2 linked regions of the Homo sapiens genome follow. The protein of the gene in region 1 interacts with the protein of each later gene in a biochemical or structural test. Each region holds a gene or a part of one and is shown on either strand. Other genes may lie near its edges.

Region 1 (3,500 bases):
GATGCAACATGAGGTCTCAGTAGACAAGTTTATTTTTTGCAGTTTTTATCTAAAGTCAGTACCTCAAGAAATACATCAAATGTTTGTATTGTTGGATCCTTTGTAAAATTCAAACTGTATTTTTAATTTTTTTAGTGCAGAGATTTAAGTTGGCCCTCTAGTTATGGAGACACTCCTACTGTTTCTATAAAAGGAATACTTACATTGCCCAAACCAGTGCATTTCAAATCTTCAGCCAAGGAAGGTTCCAACGTAAGTGGCTGTTTGTATTTGAATTTCTTTTCTGTTTTTTTTTTTTTTATATTTGTCACTTTTACCCATGTAAACAAGTCAGAATAAGAAAGTCTTTTATCTTAGGGAAACTACAACTATGTATTATTGCTTTTTCAAGGCAACTTTGAGTCTGAAAAATATTTGATATTTCATTGTCTAGTATTAAGATGCATTTAAAAAGAATATCTTATTCACTAAAATATATAGAAGATTAACAATATCTAAGAAACCTGTTTACTTTTCTTGTGTGAAAGGAAATAAATCTTGGCTTCTCTTTCCCCCAACCCACTTTGGCTTTGAAAAATAAATTCATGATTGCAATGAATTTCTTTTAAATATTTCCAATTAGTATAACAGAAAGACTTATGATCCTGAGTTTGGTTTTGTAGATCCTAGATTTTACATTAATTTAAATACATCTTCATTTCTGTCACTTTTTATAGGTTAAAAGATTATTGTTTTTCTATGCAAATGAAAAGATATCTTCTAAAAGACATCATTTTAAAATAATATCATTCAAATGACTAATAAACATATAAAAAGTTTCTTCTCACTATTAATCATAGAAATACAAATTTAAATTGCGTGTATTGCTTTCTGTTTCTTTCTTCCTCTTTCTTTCTTTGCTTTCTTCTTAGAATTAGGAAAACTTTTACAGGTATTCTAGAACATACAACTTCTTAGAAATTATCTTGACACTACATGTCAAAACCTTAAAATATTTATACTTTTAAACAGTAATTCTACTTTGAAACTGGAAATTATTTCTGTGGAAATAATCTAAAATACAAAAATATATAAAATACTCTTGGAAGTTTTGTTTGAAGAAAAATTGAAAAAACTTCAAATGTGTCATACAGAGGAATGGTTGAAAAACCTAATGGTGTACCTATGTGTATTAGTTTCCTAGGGCTACCATAACAGTACTGTACCACAAACTGGGTGACTTACAGCAACAGAATTTTCTCTCTTGCAGCTTTGGAGAAAGTCCAAAATTAAAATGTCAGCAGTGTTGATTCCTTCTCTGAGGGAGAATCTGTTCTATGCCTCTCTTCCAGCTACTGTGATGGCCAGCAATCCTTGACATTCCCTGGCTTGTAGATCACTCCAGTCTCTGCTTCTGTCTTCACATGGCATTATACCTGTGTTCTGTGTATTCACATGGCCATCTTCTTAAAGGATACCAGTCATTAGGGGTCCACCCTATGTCAGTATTACCTTTTCTTAACTTCACTGATCACATCTACAGTGACCCTGTTTCCAAATGAGTTCACATTCTGAGATGCTGGGGCTCAGGACTTCAACATATCTTTTTTAGGGGGGTGTAATTCATCCCATAACACCATGTGATAGAAAACTAGGTAACTATGAAAACTAATGTTTAGGAAGAGTTTTTAAGGAGCTGGAAAAACATTTTTAATAAATGAAAAAGACAATGATCAAAATTGGGTTGTGTGTGTATGTGTATATGTGTATGAATGTGTATATATGTATGTATGTGTATATGTATATATGTATATATATATTGGGATCTTACTTTATGAAAATATGTATCATTGAAAGTCTAGCTAGAAATAAACCTTAACTCATTATAACCTTGACACTCATAGATGAATACTTTCTGAATTAAACAATTTTACTTTTTGATTTTCAAATAAAGCTAATTTAACTTAGGAAAAGTTAGGAAAAATGTTCCCATATTAAAACTTGTATGGAATCTTTCATTTTACAATTTTATTATTATATATAAATTTGTTTGGGAGACTCCTATTTGGCAAAATACAGAAAGTGTGAAATGAAGCATCACACTTGCATAATTTGTAAGCTCATTAAACATTTTGTGTGTAATATATAATTGGTGTGATTCTATGACTTGAGACTCTAAAAGAAAAAGATAGCTCAGTAGTTGTGAGACCCTCAGAAAGACAGTTCTGGCTGTACAGACAGACATAAGCTATTACAACAAGAGTAACAGTTTGGGCACAGTATAGGCATACTTCGGAGATACTGTAGGTTCAGTTCCAGACTGCCACACTAAAATGAACATTGCAATAAAGCAGGTCACATGAGTTTTTTGGTTTCCCAGTGCATACAAAAGTTATCTTTATACTGTAGTCCATTAAGTGTGCAATAGCATTATGTCTAAAAAAAGTAATTTACATACTTTAATTTAAAATACTTTATTTCTAAAAAATGTTAATGATCATCTGAGTCTTCAGCAAGTTGTAATTTTTTTGCTGTTGGAAGGTTTTGCCTTGATGTTGATGGTTGCTGAATGATCAGGGTGGTGGTTAGTGAAGGTTGAAGTGGCTGTGGCAATTTCTTAAAATAAGACAACAGTGAAGTTGGCCACATCTATTGACTCTTCCTTTCACAAAAAAGTTCCCTGTAGTATGTGATGCTGTTTGATAGCATTTTATCCACAGTAGAACTTCTTTCAAAATTGGATTCCATCCTCTCAAACCCTGCTGTTGCTTTTCAGCTAAGTTTATGTAATATTCTGAATCCTCTGAATTCATTTCAACAACGTTCACAGCATCTTCACCAGGAGTAGATTCCATCTCCAGAAACTACTTTCTTTGCTCATGTGTGAGAATCAACTCCTTATCTGTTCATATTGTATCATGAGATGGCAGCCATTCAATTGCATCTTCAGGATCCACTTCTAATTCTAGTTCTCTTGCTGTTTCCACCACATCTGCAATTACTTCCTCTGCCGAAATTTTGAATCCCTCAAAGTCAGCCATGAGGATTAGAATAAACTTCTTCCAGATTCCTGCTAATGTCCTTTTTTTGACCTTTCATGCATCATGAATTTTCTTAATGGCATCTAAAATCCTGAATCCTTTCTAAAAAGTTTTCAATTGCTTTTGCCCAGGTCCATCAGAGGAATCACTATCTATGGCAGTGATAGCCTTACAAAATTTAGTTTTTAAGTAATAACACTTGAAAGTTGAAATTACTCCCTGATCCATGGGATGCAGAATGGATGTGTTTGCAGACATGAAAATAACATTCATCTCTGTATACATCTCTGTCAGGGCTCTTGGGTGACGAAGTGCATTGTCAATGAGAAATAATGTTTTGAAAGGAATCTTTTTTTTTTTGAGCAGTAGATCTCAATAGTAGACTTAAAATATTTAGTAAACCATGCTGTAAACAGATATGCTGTTATCCAGGCTTTGTTGTTCCCTTTATAGAGCACAGGCATAGTTAATTTAGTATAA
Region 2 (4,040 bases), on another chromosome or scaffold:
CTCTGGTAGTTTGTGGCATTTAATATCTTAAGTATGGTTTTAGCAAGTCAAACTCTTGTTGGGGCCAGACGGGGTGGCTCACACCTGTAATCCCAGCACTTTGGAAGGCCGAAGCGGGCGGATCACTTGAGGTCAGGAGTGTGAGACCAGCCTGGCCAACATGGTGAAACCCCGTCTCTACTAAAAATACAAAAATTAGCCAGGCATGGTGGCGCATGCCTGTAATCCCAGCTAGGGAGGCTGAGGTGGGAGGATCACTTAAGCCCCAGAGGCAGAGGTTGCGGGAGCTGATATAGTGCCACTGTCCTCAAGCTGAGTTACAGAGCGAGACTCCGCCTCAAAAAAAAAAAAAAAAACAAAAAAAAACAAATCTGGTTGGAAGGAGTCTTGAACAACAGCTGAGGCATTTTGCTCCAAAATCTCAATATAGTATAATAAAAAACAGCTTATAATAAGAACATCTTCTTTTTTCATTGTGAAAGATGTGGTTAAGCATTACACGTTTCAAAGTTTTGCTTAATTCCCTAGGGAAAAAAACTACCATTTCAAAAGCCTGACAGTGTATTTTATTTCATCCTTTCATGAAGGATTTTCTATGTAACAAGACTTGAAACCAATTAGAATTTTTAATTTAGTATTTGCCAAGGTTGCTGTTTGGGGTAGATAAAAATATTTCCCCAACATAATAATTATGAGTGTTAAGATTTTATTTAGACTGGTCTAAAAGTTCCCAAAGCCTGGAGAAATCTTCATAATGCTTTTTGTTTTATTTTTATTTTTTTTGGCTCACTCCGTCGATCTGGCTGGAGAGCGGTGGTATGATCACAGCTCACTGCAGCCTCAACTTCCCAGGCTCAGGTGATCCTCCCAGGTAGCTGGAACTACAGATGTGCACCACCACACCTGGCTAATTTTTTTTGTAAAAACAGAGTTTTGCCATGTTGCCAAGATGAACTTCTTGAACTTCTGAGCTCAAGCAATTGGCCCACACCCACAGAACTAGGATTACAGATGTCAGCCACCATGCCTGGCTCAAAATGCTTTTTATAAAATATGATTAGGTTCTTGGGAGGCCGAGATGGGCGGATCACCTGAGGTCAGGAGTTCGAGATCAGCCTAACCAACATGAAGAAACCCTATCTCTACTAAAAATACAGGATTAGCCGGGCGTGGTGGTGCATGCTTGTAATTCCAGCTACTCGGGAGGCTGAGGCAAGAGAATCGCTTGAACCCGGGAGGCGGAGGTTGTGGTGAGCCAAGATTGCTCCATAGCACCCAGCCTGGGCAACAAGAGCGAAAACTCTGTCTCAAAAAAAAAAAAAAAAGATTAGGTTTAAATCACATCTTGCTTAGTATACCCAATACTTTAATATGATGTATAGCAAAATCAGCTTTTTTTTTTTTTTCTTGCTTCTTAGCTTTTTTACACATTAAGGGTTAGGAAACTACCAGTGGGATTAAATTAAAAATGATTTGTTGTGTGAGGGTCTCAGTAAAGTTGAAGTGGTAAATATTTTACATTACATTAGGTCAAAAAGGCTAGCCCTGTCCTGTTTTTAAATCTTCTAATCTACTATAAGCATTTCTACTTTTTTTAGTGAGATATATATATATATATATCACATTTAAAAAAAAAAAATATATATATATATATATATATATATATATATATATTTTTTTTTTTTTTTTCAGATGGAATCTCACTTTGTCACCCAGGCTGGAGTGCAGGGGTGCATTTTCGGCTCACTGCAACCTCTGCCTCCTGGGTTCAAGTGATTCATGTGCCTCACCCTCCCAAGTAGCTGGGATTACAGGCACCACCACCATGCCCAGCTAATTTTTGTATTTTTAGTTGAGAGCGAGTTTTGCCATGTTGGCCAAGCTGGTCTCGAACTCCTGACCTCAGGTGATCCACCTGCCTCAGCCTCCAAAGTGCTGGGATTACAGGCATGAGCCACCACATCTAGCCTAGTGGCATTTTTAACATTTAGTTTTATAGACTTTCTATCTATAGATTGAATTAATTTTTTAAATTAAACTATAGCTTAATAACTGGTTAATATTAAACATGTTTTCAGGGGGAAAAAAAAAAGAATTAACAAGTAACCAGACTATTTCCAGAGTCCTTCAGGTGTCCTTTTGTAAAAACTATTTTTCCTTCTTTTTACTTGCTTTACTCATTTATTTATTCGTTTGTTCATCGATCTTTTAAATGGCAGTATCCCTCTGAAGAAGATATGATCGAATGGGCCAAGAGGGAAAGTGAGAGAGAGGAAGAGCAGAGGCTTGCCCGACTAAATCAGCAGGAACAAGAAGACTTAGAACTGGCTATTGCACTCAGCAAATCTGAGATATCAGAAGCATGAAGAATTCTCTTGTTCTTTGGCAACAATATAGTATTCTTCTTCCTGAATACTGAAACTATTTACAATGTGTATCAAAACTACCTGTGAGCATGGGAATACAAAAGGTTTGAGATTCCTGTAAATGTGACAAAATTTTAGGATTTTTTTTTTTTCTTCATTACAGATTCGTCTTTTTTTTTTTTTCTTATAAAAGCCGTAACCCAGTCAGACAAATTCACCTTCACTTAGGCCCCTGTTCTGGTATACATTTACTGTGAGCTTTTGCCTGCCTGTGCTATTTTACTTGTAAAGCTAGAGCACCCAAGCTTCTGCCTTCTGGAATATAGAGAAATAGTTTCACCCTGCACTACCCTGTTCTGTAGTTATTCTGATGATAGCCAGTGAGGTTCTTAAAGTTTGCAGTATTCTCCCCTGATTGGAATGGTTGAGTGAGGGTAAGGGAAAGAATATCTTATTTCTTTTATGATTGGTGCAAATTGGCTAAAGTGCATTTTTAAATTTCCTCTACTTAATTTGTTTTTCAGAGATAAGGAAAAATATTTTGCACAGATTTACTCCACTATGGAAAAGGGATGCTGTAGGTTGAACCATTATAGCCTCAGATTCGATCTTTTCCTAACTAAAAATATTAAAGCCTCATGTGTGAAATAAATTTTTAAAAAGATTTATCTGGATTTAGAGAATTTTAGATCAACAGATACCTCTCAGTGTGTTTGCTAATTAATAAAAATCAGTTTCTTACAAATAAAGTTTGTAAGAAAATGTTCATTTTAAGTGATAGATAGTGGAGAAAATTTATCACCTAAAATATACCCATCAGTATAAGGCAAGCAAAAGTCTTAACATGGCAGCCATTCTGCCTTTGCCGTGGCCCTGTCCTGTTTAGTTCTTAGTGGGTTAATTTTTGTACTTTTGCAGAAGAAACTTCAGCAAGCTAGAACTGGAAGGTACTTTAATTTTTCATATATATTTGTTTTTTTTTTTTTAATGAAGGCTCATTTACTTGAAATGTAAAAACTTTCACTGAATACAAATAGAAAAAGTGATGTGTTTTATATCATATTGCTTTTTGTCCATCTTTGTGGTTTAGTTTATTTACTCACTTCATGTTTTTCACCTATAAAATTGTCAAGCTAGCAAAAAAACTCTTGTTTTTTTAATTGGGAGAGAAGAGACCTGCCAGATTATCAGACCTCTTCATGTTAAAAGACCATCTCCTGTAAAACTGACCTAGTGGACAAGCTGAATTTGAAATAGACTGTGAAGTAAGCTGTAACTTGTCATTTTAATTTTGTTTAACACGGTTACTGACTTAGATGATGTATTAAATACCAAGATAAAGAAAAATGCACCTAAAATCTAATTAGAATTCTCTGGGTCAACAAGTCAAGGTGGTATTGATCTGTGTTAATCTGAGTAACTTATTGCCTAGCCTATAAATAAATTCCAAAATATCCAATTCATTTCTTCTTGAAATGGTGCTTGTTTTGTTTTCTTTCCATTACACAATTAGACTCCTACAGTTTAAAACAAACTTTAAACCACTATCTTGCACTGCTAACTTTTTTCTACCTTTGTAAATAGAAACATTTCTGCATAAAAGTCATACATATGAAGCAAGGGCTGAATCATAATCACAAGGCTTAATTTTGATAAACGAATCCAGTGACCTAA

Evidence for each region.
Region 2: the proteins of TC2N (region 1) and EPS15 interact in a test that uses a peptide from one of them, tested with the Homo sapiens proteins (one large-scale study listed by BioGRID).

What each region holds. Positions count from the first base shown.
Region 1 is NC_000014.9:91,794,537-91,798,036, reverse strand, and holds part of TC2N (tandem C2 domains nuclear protein), read left to right. Parts: intron 1-135; coding exon 136-252; intron 253-3,500.
Region 2 is NC_000001.11:51,355,026-51,359,065, reverse strand, and holds part of EPS15 (epidermal growth factor receptor substrate 15), read left to right. Parts: intron 1-2,219; coding exon 2,220-2,366; 3' UTR 2,367-4,040. UniProt on the Homo sapiens protein: Involved in cell growth regulation. May be involved in the regulation of mitogenic signals and control of cell proliferation. Involved in the internalization of ligand-inducible receptors of the receptor tyrosine kinase (RTK) type, in particular EGFR.